Regions from separate parts of the Homo sapiens genome. Here region 2 is linked to region 1. The links come from fine-mapping of genetic effects on gene expression. A gene starts in region 1. The other region holds a variant in brackets. All regions are shown on one strand. Distances are between the middles of the regions.

Region 1 (10,065 bases):
CGAGCACAGGGGCAGGTGGGACACACTTTTAAACAACCAGATTTTGTGAGAACTCTATCATGAGACAACACTAGAGGGATGGTGCTAAACCATTAGAAACCACCTCCATGATCCAATCACCTACCACCAGACTCCACCTCTAACACTGAGAATTACAATTCGACATGAGATTTGGGTGGGGACACAGAGCCAAACCATATCAATATTCTCCTATTGACTATGCAACATTTTACACGCCACATATTAGTTTAATACAGCAAAAGTATTTTAAATGCTGTCATGGTTAGCCTTATGTGTCAACATGGTTAGGTTATAGCACCCAGGTATTTAATCAAACACCAATTTAGGTGTTGCTATAAACATATTTTGTAGATGTAGTTAATGTCTACAATCAGTTGACCTTAAGTAAAGGAGATTACCTTCCGTAATGTTGGTAGGACTCATCTAATCAGCTGAAGGCCTTAAGAGCAAAACCTGAGGTTTCCCAAAGAAGAAAGAATTCTGCCTCAAAACTACAGAATCAACTCCTGCCTAAATTTCCAGCCTGCTGGTCTGACCTACAAATTTTGTACTTGCCAACTCCCACAACTGCATGAGCCAATTTCTTAAAATAAATCTCTTTTAAAAATACACATATATATGTGATATTGGTCTGTTTCTCCGGAGAACCATAATTATACACTAACACAGTGAAAATCAAACTGGTACTATTTTGCTTCAAGAGGCTCCACCAGGTCATTCACACAAGAGGTGGGAGGCTCCACCAGGTCATTCACACAAGAGGTGGGAGGGATTCCCCTCCCAGCCCTCTCCAGGTAACAAAGGAGTGCATCATCTGTGTGGTATTCAAAAACTATAATAACAACTAAAAGTCTTTCTGCTGTATTATCACCAGGAGCTGGCAATTCTAAACCTCAGTGCTAAAATACTCTTTCCAACTATAGCAGACAGCTCCCACCATCAAGACCCCTAGTATGTCACTGGTAGTGGTCAACTTCCCCCACCCCCCCATGCAAATCATTTATCCAATAGTTCTTCTATTCCTTAGGCTCTCAAAATTAAAAACAAAACTAATAATAACAACAAAGGTTAAGGGCAATCAGTGTGTTTTCTACAATATTTGCCATTGTGAGTTATAGCCTATCACTTTAACAGAAAAGTTCATCTACAGTGTAATGTGATGCCTCACTCAAAGCAAAACTGAGTCTATTTATATAATCCAACAAATTATGATTTAGTATTAAAAGTATTTTTAAAACAATAACCTAAACAAGAGGTTCACAGTCATAACTACATGCCTATAGGCTGGAAAATGTGCCAAGATTTATGGGATCAGATTCAGCAGAATGGACAGGGCCCTACTAACAGGACTGCAGTGATTCATCCCCTTTTGAGTCACTCTGAGGCCCAAGTCATCTTGGTCACTATTGGAGAAAAGGTCTAACTCACCAGAGGAAAAGGACAGAAAGTATTACTAAAAGCAGTCAACCCTGTGTGAGTCAACCTCATTAAGGGCCATGCTTTTCATCAGAGGCAGTGCAGCAGCTGGACCTTAAGTTAACAGATCAGCAGTCTTTCGTAGCTCCTCATCCAAAAACTGTACTTCCCCATTGTAACAAATATTCTTGATTCTATCAAGTGGCAGGAAATGGCTTTCTAACTAGAGTATGCCGATAATTGAGAACGTACTATATAATCAGAAAATTGATAACCAAAGGGCATAGAAGCAACGAGCTCAACTTAGCAAATTATTTCGTATTTTACAAACTAGAGATTAAGGAAGACAAATGTATGTGTATATGAAGACAGTGTTTTGGTTATCACTATTTTGATAGTTCTTCCAATACAGACACTGTACATATTTCAGAAATAAAAAGAAATAGTGAATCTATAAAATAGCCAGCAGTTCGCTGTACTTAATCAAAAACTGCCATTATTGGTTAAACTGTAAAATACATCTAAATCCTACGGAATAACAAAAATAATTTATCTAGAGAGAAAGCTAAATTTACTAAACAATTAGAAGAAAGAATACAATTCCAAAGATTTTCCGGAATACAGGGCAATCCAACCTCAACATACCATTCATATATATAGCTAGCCCAACTTGCCCAAGAGGGCAAGTGCTCTTGTGTTTCAACAACGAGCACTTCCTCCAACCATGAACTAATGTCTAAAGACTTGCATGCTTTCTCAAGTGCTTTATTTCTCAAAAACCATGGGAAAAGGCGGAAGAAAAATAAAATCAAGTCTTATCAGATAAACAATATTGTCTACTTAAACAAATAAGATTAAATTGAGACATATACAGAAATTAACATGGCAGTTAATTCAATTACTTTAGAGATCAGTGTTATCTCTTCATTTTGTAATTTGAAAACTTATTCAATATGCTCATTTACATGTTAAGGCACTGTTTATGTTTAGGCCTTGCTTTACACTTGTAAATATCAGCAGTCCTCCTAAACATAAGGACGTTATAACTGTGTATTTCACTCAAGCACAGATATTCAAGGCCATCAAGAATTTATAAGCTAGCAAGATATCGCAGTACCAATAAATATAAAATGTTCTAGTTTTCCTGAATTAGTTCAAGTCAGACCACCAAATCAGATCTAAAAGTTACCTGTACTAATACAGTAATTTTTAAAACAAAAACTTCTAACATTTGAAATGTGAAACACCTGAAACAAGCAAAGCAATCATCAGATCTCACCCTCCATCAGTGACAGTGTTATGATTCTTCCTAGCTACCTTGCTCACTTTGTGGCAAAAATCCAATTCACTTACTACCTACTTAAAAGCTAGGAGAATCTTTGTAATTACACTGAGTGAAACACTATATTATGTAGATTAGGAAGCACATATTAATCACATCCAATAAAACATAAATGCAAGGTAAATAATAACTAAATCAATAATTACCTTTGGTAATAATAATGAGCCCACATACCAAACACTGGCCACTGGGGAAAACTAAATGTGCTAATGTGCGTGTAACAACAGATCTTGGGTTATCAATATTTTTAAAAAACACTGACAATGGCAAATATTTATATATATATATATATATATATATATATATTTCCTTACAGCAGAAATAAAAAGGAACAGTAAAATCTTAAGAACTGCTAGTAATTTGCTGCACCCTGATGTAAAATTGCCTTTATTGGTTAAACTAAAAGACTAAACCCAACAAAATAGCTTTTAGAAAAAATGTGTTAGAAAGTTGGACAGAAAAACAATGAGTTGAAACTGCAAACATTGACAGCACTGGCTTTCCATGTGATTATCACCATAATTCTGAACGCATTTAGTTCATCCCATGACAAGGGAAATAAGACAAGCTAAACTCTGCAGGGTAGAGAAGAGTCCAAAAGGAAAACTTTGGTTGTCTTCCTTGGGTGAAGAGAACTCTCAACTACTATCAGTTTGACAAAGACACGCAGAATCTGGGTGAAGCAAGAATTCGAGCGGTCCCTAGGAATATACAATATTTTCCCGAAATCCACACGCGCGGAGCGGGATATATTTCTAAAAACAAAAAACAAACTGCATGAATTGCAAATGAAGCAATAGGAGTTCAGCATCCAATAGGTGGCTGGTCATCTTTCTGGTTCGTTAGGTCAAGACGTCCTTCTCACCTACGACCCTCAGAGAAGGACTGACTCCCTCCTCTGTAACCTCTCCCTGGAAGCCAACCTTTGCCATCTCCTGCCATCCTCTCAGTCAATCCGCCAGGACCCGGGACACGCCCCCACGAATGACTACTTTCCTCCGAGATGCAACTCTGCCCCGTGTCATCCGCAACCTCCAGTCTCAGGGCCTCTTTGGCCTCAGGGTCCCCGGTGCCTCCCTCCTCAGTCCCTAAAGGCTGCCCTTAGGGCTCTCCTGGTTCCCCGTTCTCAGTCCTGGCCCTTCTCTCAAGCCTGGGGTCCCGGATTTCCCTCCACACGCGCGGGAGATGCCGACTCTCCCGTCCCTACCCGGTCTCCCAGTCCCGCGGCGCCGGGCGGCGGCGCGCCGAAAGGCATCCACTGAGGAAACAAGTGCCTGCAACGTTCCGGCTGCGAACTCACCTCCAGTCCGGGCTCTCGGATGCTGGCCCGGAGCCGGGCTTCCGCCTGGCGCGGTCCGCGTCGCGAGCGGGACCGGAAGTCCCGCCCCTCGCCCGCTCCCGGCCCGCTCCCGGCCCGCTGGCCTCGCTTGACTACCGCTCCCCGGGAGAGGGATCGCCGGCGGCGGGCGACGGGCGGCTGGCAAGGGGCAGAGGGCAGAGGGGCTTGGCTTGAAAGGGCGAGGCAGGCGCCAAAAAAATTCCCTCTCGCGCTCCTGCTCTTTCTAGTGTATCCATCGACCAGTGTGCAAATGCTTGACCAAGCGTCTATTCTGCCCAAGCCCAGTGAGGCACAAGATGACTCAGACACTGACCTCTGTCCTCACAATCTAGTTAAAAGTTGACATAAGTAAAAACAGAAGTAAATCACGCCACAAGACAGTGTTTCTTCTTTCATTATTCAGATTATTATCACCTGCTATATAGGCCTGTGAACAACCAGGCACTGCTGTAGGGGCTGGGGATAGAGCGAACAGAGGACAGCCCCACTCTCGTGAGGCTTACACTCAGGGCGAGGAACTAGCTATAGAATAAATCGAACAGCGGCGGCTCCCTCGGGAGGCTTATGCACAGAAACAAAAATATATAAGCAATGAAACCATCAAGTGTTAGAGGCACTCTGGTGGTGCTGTAGGGAACGGTGCAATGTAGAGAGCTGGGCGGAGAAGGCTTTCTAGAAATAATGACTCTTCAATTGAGACTGAAATAAATGATGAATAAGAGTTAAAGGACAGGCACAGTGGAGAAGGGCATGCAGAGAAGAAGGACGTTATGGAGTGAGAGCTTGGCTTGTACCGGTAGCTGGCCAGGAGTTAAGCAAAGTGTCAGATGGCAGATGCAAGAGCAAGCATAATGAGAAGAGACAAGGCCAAATCATGAAGAACGTTGTGCCCTATGCTTAAAAATTTTGGACTTCAGAGACTCCGTGCAACGGAATCCGTGGGGTCATCTAAGGGAATAGACAAAACAGTGAGTCATGGGGTTGACTAGGGGGATTGTCCTAGTCATCAAAGAAAAATAATACATCATGAATAGCATGTTTTATCCTTGAGGGTGCTTTCTTGAACTGCCATACCCAGATGTAAAGGCAATAGACGGCTACCACAACCCTATAAAGGCAGGACCACAAGGGATCATACCCCTCAGGTTGCTGCATTGAGCAAATCACCCCAACCAACTGAGATGCTAACTGAAGTCACAGGGAACTATGGAATGGGCCCAGAAGAAAGAAGCTTCAACACCAGCTACAGTAATGAGGACTGTTGCATTTTTTGTTTGTTTTCTTTGCTACCAGTGTTTAATAAATACTCTCTTGCACACCAAGCCCTTTCTTTGCCTTTTTAAAAAGGAATGGTATAATACATACATTTTTCTTTTTTTCTCCTTTTGCCAGCAAAAGGCCATACATTGCAATATATGGAGATAGGATTACAGTAGAAGAAAATGAGGAATGGATATCGTGTAGAAAGTCTGTACTTAGAGGGCATAACATCAACTCTAAGTGAAGTAAAAGGTCACGCGTTTGGGTTTTCTCCCATTGGGAAGGTTAGTAGTCCATTTGTGGTGATACTTGAAATAACTGATTCACATAGCGGCAAGGTGTATTTTTGAAAGGATGGAAAGAAGAGAGTGTGTATGTGGTGTGATGTGGGGGGTGTGTGTGTGTGTGTGTGTGTGTGTGTGTGTGCCCACGCTGGGTGCCAAGAAGTAGAATGTAATAGACACTCTGTGAAATGTTTCCTTATAGCTTCTCACAATTCCTTTTTTTGTAGGAATGGCTGAAATACATAGAGGCAGTCCTTTTATGGGCCACATATGCACAAGCGACCATGTCCTAGTGTGACCAGCTACTCTGGTTTGCTAAAGACAGGGGGATACCAGGATGCTGGACTTTCGGTGCTTAAACTGGGATAGTTTTGCGAAAACTGAGACAAGTTGGTTGCGCTACCATGTCCCTTGTCTACATAACAGATTAATTCAGAGGTGGGCATATCCTAAACCAGACCATTTAGACTCTTTGCCCCAGAAATCTTAAATGAGGCATAGAGAAACACAGAGAGAATATAGTTACTCAGTAGAACTGAGTCACAAATGGCAGTTCCCTAAAGAAAAAATCTATTAACACCCTTTGCCAAAGATCCAGGACCTGCCCTGTTTCCTTTGGTTATAGGAGATATCCCTGTATAATTCCAAAACTTTTTTTTTTTTGGCTAGTCAAAGAAGATTGCTGCTGCTTGCAACCAAAATAATCTTAAGGAGCATATTCATTTCCAATCCTTGTTTAAGATAATGTGCTCCAAGAGTCTCTTCTGAATGGGCACTGAGCTGAACGAACCATACTCATTGCCACAGCAAACCAGACCAAATATGAACACTGAACTCAAACAGGCCTAGAAAGTCTCACATGCATGGATTTTGCAATGCACATATAGGGCTCCACTCTTGCATGCTAAATTAGAAATGTCCAAACCTAGAATTAGGTTAGGCATGAGTAAGATGTTCAAAACTGATGGGAAAAGGGGGAAAGCAACAGGAATGATGAGAAGGAAATAAGGATAAGGAGAGAAAGATGGAAAAAGAGAAGACTTATCTGAGAGGTGAACATCTTAGTTCCCTTCTTTTCAGTTTCTGATTCCCCAGTCCCTTATGAGATCCAGCTAAATGTTCTGCCCTTAAGTTCTACGAAAATTCCGTGTCCTTCCAGTAAACCCCCCATTTGGTTAAGAATCATTTTAGTAGGTTTCCCCTCCTAGCAATCAAACCCCAAGACATCAATTCACAAGACACAAGGTTGCCCACTCATTCTATAGCATGCACCAGAGTTCTGGAGCCACTTTCTCTCCTCAGACTCAAGAACAGGAGAAGGATTTGCACACCTCCATGGCTGCCTGGTCCATTCAGGAAAACTGTCACAATTACCATGGGTTAGATGACTTTAACTATTAAAATCACACAGGTGGGGAGAATCATGCAATCAGAGTGTAAAGTGGAAGGAGACTTTGGAAACCATGCATGTCAACAGAGGAAGGAACTAATGCCCTTCCAGCTAGGCATAGTGGTTTTCCTAAGGCTAAATAGTTCAGTAGTCCCAGAGACAGGATTAGCTAACAATCTCGTCTCTCAACAACTGAGGAAACTACTGTGAAATCCTTGAAAGTGCACTATTCAGTCTCCTCCCACTCAGCTCCTGATCTTTGGAGTTTACCCACATCTGTATAATGGCATCAGCCTGACTGCGGAACTGTGAGAGCTGTTCAAAAGCCATTTGTGGGTGACAGTAGATAGTGAATATGTTAATCTGAATCAGGAGAGAAAATTTTAAGGAAAATTTTCCTACTTTTTTTTTCCGTACTCGCCAACTGGCTCAAACAGGTAGATGGGTTAATTAACAGAGCTAATAAGGTTAGTTATTCATAAAGTTTATTTACACATTCTACATTCTCTTTAGTTCATACATGGGTATATGTCGTTTCCTTACTTTTTTTTTTTACCACCAACATAAACATCGATATATTTGCAGTTATGTCTAAAACTATATCCTCGTCCCTTTGTAATTTAGTGGCAATTTACTAAATTACTACTAAATCCAGTAATTTAGAAATTTGTGGCAAAATCAACTAGTCTACACTTGGAAGCAATCACAACACCAAACTTGCATTAATTACAGATTATGAAATGAGTGATAAATAAGGTCAGCCAGGGATCTCCAATTAATAATTCCTAACTCTTCTGCAGCTTATTAAAGGCCAGATATTTTCTATGAAGATCTTAACATCTCTTACATAAAGTGAAAAATTAATTACTAAATTTAAAGTGCCATTTCCTTCCTAATGATGTGCAAATATTACTCACCGTCATCATCTCCAGAAATTTGGCACTGTTGTCCAGGCTGGAGTGCAGTGCTGCAATCTGGGCTTACTGCAGTCTCTATCTCCTGGGCTCAAGCCGTCCTTTGACCTCAGCCTCCTGAGTAGCTGGGACTACAGGCATGCAACACCATGTTTGGCTAATTTTTGTATTTTTTTTTAAGAGATGGGGGTCTTCTTATGTTGCCCAGGCTAGTCTCGATCTCCTGGGGTCAAGCGATCCTCTTGCCTCAGCCTCCCAAACTGTTGGGATTACAGGCATGAGCCCCCGCACCCAGCCCAGAAATTTTTCATCTTCCCAAAAATGATACTTTGTATCCATTAAACAATAATTCTCCATTTCCTTCTCCCCTCAGTGTTTTGATGTAATTTTATGTTTGTATATCCTGCAAAAACATTTTTAGCACTGATTCATATCTTCTTGAAGTAAATACATTTCTAATAGAAATAATATTTTGCCCTTTTCAGCTCTTTTCTCCTGTGGAATCCAAATAAAACATGTGATTTCCACAGGGATGCCGTTCTGCTTCAGACCTCTTTAAGAGCTAAACCAATGGAAATTCCATGTGTAAAAGAAACATAACAGGGAGACTTGGCATGATACTCATTAACTAAAAATCTGGGTGGATGTGTTCCTAAGGATTTTTATTCAAGTTAATACTTTTGAACTCCAATCCTGCTTGTTTCTCTGCAAAAGCAATGGGCATTCCACGTGTTTGATTGGTGCACAAGCCTCACTTCATTTTCCTCCCAGGAAAATCAAAACTAAGCAGAGATACTGCCGCCAGAGAAAGCTTCACCTGCTAAATTCCACAGCGACTAATAAAACAAGCCTTTGTTTTTCAGTAAAAATTTCACTCCATGGTTGGTAACTAAAATAGACCCGCAGCTCTAATCCTAACTTGGAAATCTCACCAGTAGGTAAGTAACAGAATGAATTTTCAGTTCTGTGTCTCAGTGATAAGAAACATATTTCCTAAAACAGAATTAACTACAGGCTGGGAATATTGAGGCAAAACTTTTCCTGTAGAAACAATGGATTCATGCCTTAAAGGGGGCTACACCTTCTCTACTTCTCTAGTTAGTGAGAAGTCACTTCTTTTATTTTTAGCATTCTCTTAAAAACTTTTAAAATCAAACAATAAAGCACAGGTTGATTATAGTTGCCTTGAGTAGACATGGTAGAACCATAGCAGGTTATTTCTTTTCTTTTTTTTTTTTTTTTTTTTTGAGACGGAGTCTCACTTTGTCACCCAGGCTGGAGTGAAGTGGCATGATCTCAGCTCACTGCAACCTCCACCCCCGGGGTTCAAGCAATTCTCCTGCCTCTGCCTCCCGAGTAGCTGGGATTACAGGTGCCCGCCACCACGCCTGGCTAATTTTTGTATTTTTAGTAGAGACGGGGTTTCACCATGTTAGCCAGGCTGGTCTCAAACTCCTGACCTCAGGTGATCCACCCACCTCGGCCTCCCAAAGTGCTAGCATTATAGCAGGATTATAGGCCTGAGCCACCACGCCTGGCCAGCAGGTTATTTCTGATTCCTCTGAATTTTTGTCCTGAGAGGGACCTTCTCTGCATTGCAAATACTCACTGCCCAGAAAAAATGCCCTGCACATAGAGTTGCAAGATAAAATATACTAAAATATACGATACTCAGTTAAATTCGAATTTCAGATTATTTTGTAGCATAAGTGTGTCCCCAATATCACACAGGATATACTTATGGTAAGAAATTTCTCATTGCTTATCTGAAATTATATTTAACTGGGTGTCCTGCATTTTTATTTGCTCAACCTGGCCAAACCCTGCTTACACACAAGTAAGTTTCTTTAAATATTTCTAAAGGAAAGTTTCCTTAAATATAATTAATGCAATTCCCCTAACCCCATCAAAAGTGTGAAAAGAACATTGGACTGTCAATATACTATATAACTATCTAGCATTGTATACTTTTATTATTTCGTAATAAAAAACAGAAGCAAGACCAAAGGTCTGGGATGAGTATTAAGAATTAAACAGAAAGTGGGCCAGGTGTGGTGGCTCACGCCTGTAATCTCAGCACTTTGGGAGGCTAAAGTGGG
Region 2 (10,065 bases), 30 kb before region 1:
CATCCCATCCCCATATTTAGAAAAATGCCTCAGTGAATGTGTAGAGCTCTGATATAAATATTTCCACATTAATGGAAGACAACTAAGTACACTGCTATACATATATTAGCCCCTGCATGTTATTTATATTTATTTATTTATATGTCTGTTTCCCCAACTAGCCTGTGAGCTGCTCACGGTAGATATTATATCCTATTCTATGCTCAAACCCTGGCACAGTGAGGTGCTGCACAGGTATTTGTTAAATGAAATAAGACACAGTCTCTGCCCTCAAAGAGCCTGCAATCCAGGACATCTGTAAGTCTAAATAGCTTAACTTTATCTAATATTGGACACATTTTTACACATAATTTATCTGTATATAAAGAATATGAACTTTTGCCATTCCATACACAAAGTATAAAAATTAAGAATCCTACAAGTTTTTATTTTTTTTAAAAAGCCACTACTTACTATAATTTTTACTTTTTTTGTAATTTACTCTCCTATTGTTTGTAAAGTTTATTCCTTTTATATTGAGATGCTAATAGTCGCTAATACGTGTTGACCATTTTATACTACACGACTGGCACCACACTGACCATTTTATGTGCATTCTCATTTAATGCTCACAATCACTCTAGGCGATAAATACTACAGTGTCCCACTATCGGGCATGCAATTTAAAAAACAAACAGATAAAAAGAACAGAAGAATATAGTAAAAGAACAATGTAGAACAGGATACAATGGAGATGGCATTTCAAATCAATGGAGAAAAGATAAATCAATCAATATGAATGTTGAAATAACTAGTTATCCATTCAGAAAAATAAAATATAATTAGATCCTAAAATATTCCCCCCAAAAAATCTCAGGTGTACTGAAAATTAAAATGTAAAAAAACCAATAGGTTCACAGAAACCAAGAAAAAAAAAGGCATAAAAAGTACTATGAAGTTTATTTTCATAACCTTTATTTGTGACATAAAAGCCAAAAGCCATTAAAAAAGAGAAAGATGGACAAAACTGACTAGTCACAAGTTTAAAATTCTACATGGCTCCTTCCTTTCTTCTATTATTTTTAACCATTGGGCTAATTCAAAAAAAAATTCACTGGGAGGAACTTTCTTCCTTCTCCCTTCCCTTTTATCCTTCTCCCTTCCCCCTGGGTTGCACATGGCTATTGGGGGTGGGGGTTGGTGTGTCTTGGAGCAAAATATATTGACTTAATAGAATCCAGGTTTCCACTGCAAGAGGAGGGAATTGCAAACAAGGAAAGGGAAAAGGCCAGAAAAAAAAATAATCTATTGGATTGGATTGGAATTGGAGGTATAGGTGTAAACTTATAGTTATTTATAAAGATGGTTTGATATAGAAAATAAATATGGATATATGTGTACTATCTATATTCCTGTGTGTATATGCACATACACATTTTTATATGTGTAAATACAACTTATAAGCTCTCTCCACTGACAAAACCTAAAAGAAATGATGTGTTCATAGCAATGAGCACACCCAGTGTTCAGATCTTTGTTTCTAAATACCATTCTCCACTAAAAATAACCAGGACCCTTGAATGAAATGGCTGAGTACAGGACTAGAACAGGGAAAGTATAAGATGAGCCTAGAATATCTTATTATGACAGAATTTAAGAAAGTTCTCAAATAACTATGAGGACATGTCAAAAGGACACAATAGTTAGCTTAACGTATGTCATTTCCACTGGCCATGCCTGGGATAATATGAGCATCAAAATAAATAAGGATAATACAGTTTTACCTCTGTGGAAAGAATGATATGAGATGTCTGCATATCTAGACAAACACCGACAGAATATCCTTATTAATGGTCAAGTTGTATTGGAAACAGAGGAGGGAAATACAGTAGAAATCTATTTAGTGGCATTATTTTTTTAATCATTTTATATAATAGATATAATAGTTTCACAACAAAATTTAAATACTGTTGAGAAGCTACAAAAATTATCACAACGGAAACTATGCAATAACATAAAAAATTAGTCGCAGTGAATTAAACAAAAAATGTTTTCACTAAGAATCTGACTATTCCTCAACATGTATACATGTGGACAAGGACAGAATGTCCTGCTATCACATAAACTCAACAGTTTGAAAACAGAACTCTTCTCCATTCATCACAATGGAGAATCATAAAACTTCCCTTTGTCCTATATTCTAGTTTTGGCCACAGGCCATTCTACTTCCTGCAACCACAAGCCTTAGATGCATCTTTACTTCTGCCTCCATGCTCACTCCCCATCCAATTCATTGTCTCTAAAATGTCATCAGATTTCTCCTCTTCCCTGCTTTTTTGATATGCAGAACTGCTATCCTAGTTCTAGTCATTATCAACTCATATTCCCTGTCCTTTCACTCTTTTTTTTTTTGAGACAGAGTTTCACTCTTGTTGCCCAGGCTGGAGTGCAATGGCACAATCTCAGCTCACCACAACCTCTGCCTCCCGGGTTCAAGCGATTCTCCTGCCTCAGCCTCCCGAGTACCTGGGATTACAGGCATGCGCCACCACACCCAGCTAATTTTGTATTTTTAGTAGAGACGGGGTTTTGCCGTGTTGGCCAGGCTGGTCTCGAACTCCTGACCTCAGGTGATCCGCCCGCCTTGGCCTCCCAAAGTGCTGGGATTACAGGCATGATCCACCACATCTGGCCTTTTCACTCTTTTCATTGCAACCTCCACACTGTCACTAAAGTTGTCTCTCTGTGCAAACATTTTCAAAACAGAAAAAAATCCATAGTCAACATACATAAAAATTAACTCAAAATGCATTATAGACCTAAATGAAAAAGCCAAAAACTATAAAATTTCTAGAAGAAAATCTAGAAATAAATCTTCAAGACCTTAGGTTAGGCAAAGATTGTTTTAGACAGCATACAAAAAGCAGAAGCCTTGTAAAAATAACTGGTAAAATGAACTTCATCAATCAAAACAAAAATGTCTACCAAGGACATTGACTAGTCACTAAAAATCCAGATTCACTGTGAATTATTTTGAATATTAAAGCATGTCAAGTGGCTAGTACATTTCCAAAAATTACACCCCAAAACAAATTTCTATCCCAAAAGTTATATATCATAGAGGGGAAAAAAGTAAATTATCTTGTGATAGAGCTGACATTAAATGGTCTTGTTGAGATACAGATAGAGCCAAAACACACAAATACATACACATAAACAAATCAGTTCACAGTCATAATAAATAATATTAAGTAAATAATAATTCAAAATGACCTAAACATATTGTTCAAAAATCCAGAAACTCAAAAAGCACAGCATTAAGAAATATTTATTGTGCTAATGAAACTGCATTGCAAATCTACATAATGTTTCAAAAACACTTGTTGAAATAGATTTAATATTTGTGGGATTTTTGTCTCTTACATGGAAAAAGTACCTAAGTCAAAACAACTTTGAATAAAAAATATGCTGAGATTTTCTTTCAAGAGTCCTTTTAAGCAACAGTATCTATGGTTAAATGTCAGAACAACATATAAATCATTAGATTATATTTACTATCCATCTAATAATTGTCTTCCACTTCTTTTTTTCACTTTAGGATGACAAATGAACGGATGAAGAATCGATTTTGAATGCACTTACAATACTTCACTGTGCCTTTCTTTGGCATTTACCAAAAGCAAAGTAAATTAATTTAAATATTCTTTAAAAGAAAAATCATTTTTGCAAAACTCTTTAGCACTACCAAAAGCTAGCAATGGCAAAAACTGCAACTGCGTTTGCACCAACCTAATATTTTAAGTGGAGATTTGACCTTTTTAGCACTACATCACAAAAAGTCATTTTACCTTAATAAACTACAATGAGCAATTTTCCTGAAATATAGAGTCAAAAAGTTAAAGCATTCCATTTTAGTAAAGTCAGTTGGCTAAACCCTAAATGTTGAGTTTGAAGTTTTAATTGTTGCCCAGCAATACCCATCCTTTTATATTAAAAATACCTCTTTCGTGGTCTACAACTAAATGTAAGCAATTGTTGAAGTTGCTGGGGGGTTATTCTAAATCTCACTTTGCTTCCCAGTATCTTAAACGACTCACACAGAAATACAATTATCAATACAAATCTCATTGTAATTGTTCCATTCTGTTTCCTTGTCACATGGCACAATGCTGCATAACGCATTTTTTGTATTGAGAAAA[A/T]CTCAATGTCTCACTAAGAAACAGCTTTGAAAATTGGCTCATGGCCTATTTGCAATTGATACTAAAGCTTAAATACCTTTCCTGCAAATTTACACTAACTTCAAAATACTCTGGGATTAACCATTAAAATGTTTTTGTTTCAGTTACAACACTAATGAACACCAAATGTTAGAATTTGTTTTAACGGTCTAATACATCAAGGATTTTCTTAAAAGGAAAGGCTGGATCGGCTATCCATTATATAACTGAAGGCAGATTAGTCAGTACTGATATAGATAATACTTGAAAGATTTAATACTTAAGCGTACAATCAAGCATAAGTTTAATTCAGAAAACCTGCTAAATTAGCCATCATATTCTTTCCCTATAAAAATACTAAACTCCTGTTTTCTAAGCTACACTTGAAAGCCTCCTTCCTTTCACTCCGTACACAAGCCACTTAATCTTCAACCTGATTTCCCCATTCCTATAAAATGAGGTGATGCTACTATGCTGTCTTACATCACAAAGGAATAAAAAGAAACAAAGGAAGCAAAAAGGGAATTGAGGGAACCTCAACACATCAGGTCTATTAAAGCCTGATAAAAACAACTGATATGATGAGATTTTAGGAAACAAATGTGTAAATGCTGTTTTAAAAATACAAAGACTGGAGAATACTCTGGATACATTCTAGAGATAAACACTTAGCATGTAAAAAGGTAGTACTTTAAGGACTATCGTAATTCCATGGGTGCCTTTCCTAGCCCCAGCACCACACTTCAACAGGGGTATAATATATCTATATCTTCAGCGTAAAAACAAGAGTGACATGATTTATCTACTTTTTCTGGGGCTTTTGCGTCTTTTAATGCTGACTCTCCTGTGGAATGTTATCTGTTTGGGGCCTCCCCAATAACTAACCATCCTGGTTGCTACAATTTCATCTTTCTCTTCCACCATGTTTTCATTTTTCTTTCTTGTCTTTTGATTGCTATTGTGATTTAATACTTCTTGGCCTTCAATCTGGACTTTTACAGAACTCAAGAAGCAGATGCTTTTCCTTTTAGTTAATTATTAATCACTCCTTTCAGCAATAATAGTCAAATGTTTGTTCTTGTTTGCTATTTTTATCACTGCTCAAAAGAAATTTCCCCCCCCCATCCTTCATTAGAGAAGGTCTCTCCCCTGCCTTATTTCCATGTTTCATTCCATATTCTCAATTAGGATATAGATCACTCAGTAAATTTTTACGAGCCATACCATACTAGAAATTTGAAACAGACTACTCTATAAAGAAATGGTTTAGCAAGCAAACAGTGTAAATAAGATACATGTAATAAAAGCTAAAACTTTTGAAAAAAATATTTTAAATAATGTCACTTATTTCAGAAGTACATATATATTTGCAACTGAACTAATTACAAGTCACTGTTATTTATTCTTTAAAGGATTTCCACCCAGAATCTTCTATGTTGGCATAATTTTAGACACAGTATTTGCAGTGATAACACTGCATTTCTTAAAACTATTCTGTTTTTTTTAATACTATCTTGGATTTGCCTAGCTTCCCCGATTAGTCAAAATTAATGAGGTTTACCATTCTCTCATTATATATCAAGTGAGAGATTAAAGTCCTCGGTAAGTAATGTGTCTATAAAAGCAAGGTCCAATGTTATATAAATTCAAGGAAGATGCATTCCACCTCAAATTTCTAATAATTTTTAAATGCCATTCCTAAAATCCATTTATTAACTACGAATGAACTAATAATGGCATATTTTTGATGGGCTACTATTCTGAAACCTCATCAAAATAATAGATCTACTGTTACACTGTCACAGAATATAGCATTATATCCCAAAGAGTCATCTGTGGAGCATAAAGTGCATCAGACAACCATAAGATTAGGAAAGAAAAGGTTCTGAGGTCAAACAATGTGGGAAATGTTGAGCTAAACAAAATTAAATCCATTTTTATTACCACAGGACTTCTTAGTACCATTAATAAATTAATGTATACTGTGACTCTCCAAAGCCTGTGTGTTAACAGATGCATGTTTGTATGTTGGGAGGGGCAGTATTTATGCAATTGTTCCTCAGTTTATGATTATAAAACCATATTCCAGCAAGCCATCTCCCATGGAACATACTTTGGAAAATACTAATATACATGGATCGCTGTCACTATTGATTGCTGTTTTTGATATTTAATATAAAGCAATTTCTGCCAGACACTATATTTATAAAAGTACTAATTATCTAGGGAAAGAGGGAAGGCATAAAAAAGAAAGTATAGCTATAATCTCCTTCTAAAACAGTAATACCTAAAAGGACAAATAGTGTTCTGTCCATATTTAACCCTTCTGCTGTGGCTATAGAATAAAACAGACAATTCCTTTTTTTTTTTTTTAAAATGACAGGTTTTATTTAACAGATGCCTCCGTGAATTTGGACATCCCATTTTTAATTAGGCTACCTGAGGGCTTTAAACAATCAAAATACCAAAAAATATCACAAAAGGCTTTAAAAAAGAGCTGCATATAGCAGTAAATAAAGTGTGAATTTAAGCACCTTGATTTGTAAACTATCAAACACAAACTTAAACTAGACTAGAGTTTGAATCTTCAGACCTCTTTCCTAGACCACTAAACAAGGTAAGGAACAGAAACACTCCAGTTCCTCAGGTACCAAAATAGTTAGCACATAAGGGCATTACTAGGTTCAAAATTCATTAGGTACTTATCACAAATGACAAAAATAATTGAAAGATGTCTAAAATTCCAATCCCTCTGGATCCCACCTCCCATTTTTCCTCTGATATTTCAGAGATGCTTCAGCCAGAAAGAATACTTTACCAATACCAACAGAAAGTAAAGCACTCCAACAGTCACACATACATATTCCATCACATTTTGAAATAATGCCAAATTTTACCAATATCAATATTTTATCCATATAATTATTAGCACACAGACATCAAATATGCTTATAATAAATATCACTTTTAAAAATAAAACAGTATACTCATTAAATAGCTTGATGATAAAAGACAAGTACAGTGAATATTACCATTTGAAAATTTCTATTTTAATAAAATTTACTATAAATAACAAAAGCCCCACTAGTAAGGGCAGTCTTCTGGAGATGGAAATAATTTTTAGAGCTGGTACTTTTTAAAAATAGGAGTCTGTCTAGCGTAGTGGTTAAACACATAAACTTTGGAACCCAGACATGAGTTCAAGAAGTCCAGCTCTGACACTTACTAGCAGGATAACCTTGAGTGAGTACCTAACTTCTCTGTGCCTCAGTTTCCTCTTGTAAATGGAATATTAGCAGTAACCACCTTATAGGGTTATTAATGAGGATTAAATGGTTTAAGAACAGCACCAGGCACACAGTAAACAATGCATAAATGTTTGACAAATACAGGTTTGTTTAGTGTTATGAGATCCTACTAAAAAATAAAACTACTTAAAATAATGTATAATAAGCTTTTAAAAGGAAGGAGTCAAATATGTAGAGAAAGAAAATAAAATATGCTAACAAAAGAAAAATTTACAGATGAAAAAGGTATGTACTACACTAATTAGCATATACACACTGATTTAGTCATTAATTCATTCTTTCAAACATATTATTAATAGCATTTTATATGTCTGGCACTGTGCTATGTAATGGAATCACAATGATAAATAAGACAAAATCTGTGTCCAAGATTAATCAGGTGCTCTACTCACCTTTGCATTTATTATAATAATAATTTGATGACAGTAAGTTGTGTACATATAGTATTTAACTAAATGGTATAACTATGCACAAATTGGGGTTTTGTAATTATTTTTATTTTTTTAAGAACCCTTCTGGCTGGGCGCAGTGGCTCACACCTGTAATCCCAGCACTTTGGGAGGCCGAGGTGGGCGGATCACAAGGTCAGGAGATTGAGACCATCCTAGCTAACACTGTGAAACCCCATCTCTACTAAAAATACAAAAAATTAGCCGGGTGTGGTGGCGGGCACCTGTAGTCCCAGCTACTCGGGAGGCTGAGGCAGGAGAATCACTTGAACCCAGGAGGCAGAGGTTGTGGTGAGCCGAGATAGCACCACTGCACTCCAGCCTAGGCAACAAGAGCAAAACTGTCTCAGGGAAAAAAAAAAAAAAAAAAAAGAGATACTGTACTAATGGCCAGGCATGGTGGCTCACGCCTGTAATCCTAGTACTTTGGGAGGCTCAGTGGGTGGATCACTTGGGGTCAGGAGTTCAAGAACCAGCCTGGCCAACATGCTGAAACTCCATCTCTACTAAAAATACAAAAATTAGCCAGGCATGGTGATGGGCGCCTATAATCCCAGCTACTTGGGAGGCTAAGGCACAAGAATTGCTTGAACCTGGGAGGCAAAAGTTGCAGTAAGCCGAGATCATGCCACTGCACTCCAGCCTGGGTGACAGAGTGAGACTCGGTCTAAAAAACAAAAAAACCAAGATACTGTACCAAAAACAGGGAGATTAAATTTATACAGTGGTCCCTGATTTATAATAGTTCGACTTTACCATGGTGGGAAAAGAATATGCATTCAGTAGAAACCATACTTTTGGTACCCATATGACCATTCTGGTTTTTATTTTCAGTACAGTTTTCATAAATTACATAAAGTATTCAACTCTTTATTATAAAACAGGCTGTTAGTTGATTTTTGCCTAATTGTAGGCTAATGTAAGTGTTCTGAGCACATTTAAGACAGGCTAGATTAGGCTTCATTAAGCTAGGTGTACTAAATGCATTTTTTTTTTTTTGAGACAGTCTTGCTCTGTTACCCAGGCTAGAGTGCAGTGGCACAATCTCAGCTCACTGCAACCTCCGCCTCCTGGGTTCAAGCAATTCCCCTGCCTCAGCCTCCCGAGTACCTGGGACTACAGGCGCATGCCACCATGCCCAGCTAATTTTTTGTATTTTAGTAGAGACAGGGTTTCACCATGTTGGCCAGGATGGTCTTGATCTCTTGACCTCATGATCCACCCGCCTCAGCCTCCCAAAGTGCTGAGATTACAGGTATGAGCCACCATGCCTGGCTCTAAATGCATTTTTGACTTATGATATTCTCAACTTCCAATGGGTTCATCAGGATATAATGCTACTGTAAATTAAAGAGCATCTCTGTACTAAGCAGTGAGATCACTCCCTACCTCTCAGTTCTCTTCCTTTGTTTAACTGTCAGAAACTAGTAGCAACTTGTACCTCCCAGGCAGGAGAAAGACTCTTCTTTGGAAAGAGACATCAGCCCAAGAGAAAAGGCTATAGATAAGTGGTGCCTAATCTTTTTGGCACCAGGAACCAATTTCATGGAAAACAATTTTTCCACAGACAACGTGGGCAGGGGTGATGGTTTCGGTAGGAAACTGTTCCACCTCAGATCATCGGGCATTAGATTCTCATAAGAAGCATGCAACCTAGATGCCTTGTATGCACAGTTCACAATAGAGTTCACACTCCTATGAGAATCTAATGCTGCTGCTGATCTGACAGGAGGCACAGCTCAGGCCTGCCACTTACCTTCTGCTGTGCGGCCCAGTTCCTAACAGGCCACACAGTGTTACCCGTCTACAACCTGGGAGTTGGGGACCCCTGCTATAGATATTAAGAGTCAGCAATGTCTCAATAAAATAAATCTGATCTTCAACTAACAGCCCTAGAGTGAAACCCATGCACACAGAGTTCCCAAGATTTTTAGTATTAGCTAAATGTTTGAGGAACAACCAAGGAATGCGCCTATCACAAAATAAAGAAACCAAATCAAATAGAAAAACAAACAAAAATACAATCCACAAATTGTTTTTTAAAACCAAAATTAATATATTTGGAGAGAGATGAAATTATAACCATAAAACAATAATAGACTATAAAAATGA

Alleles and levels. Alleles are on the strand shown, and positions count from the first base shown. SD is a standard deviation of normalised expression in the study named.
For the expression in tibial artery of the gene that starts at base 4,119 in region 1, T is the low allele of the variant in region 2 and A is the other (small effect, 0.21 SD a copy in GTEx).

What was found.
Region 2: its variant is fine-mapped to the expression of DISP1 in tibial artery (GTEx, PIP above 0.99).

The regions. Positions count from the first base shown.
Region 1 is chr1:222,809,093-222,819,157 of GRCh38, reverse strand. It overlaps DISP1 (dispatched RND transporter family member 1), which reads right to left and starts at 4,119. Exons shown (of 9, transcript NM_001377229.1): 1 at 4,080-4,119. RefSeq lists silencers at 4,159-4,258, 4,349-4,428 and an enhancer at 4,669-4,728.
Region 2 is chr1:222,838,818-222,848,882 of GRCh38, reverse strand. The region is part of intron 1 of DISP1 (dispatched RND transporter family member 1); the gene reads right to left. Among named protein-coding and RNA genes, the nearest start is that of DISP1, 29 kb to the right of the region's middle. The variant A/T (reference allele first, on the strand shown) is at 4,179.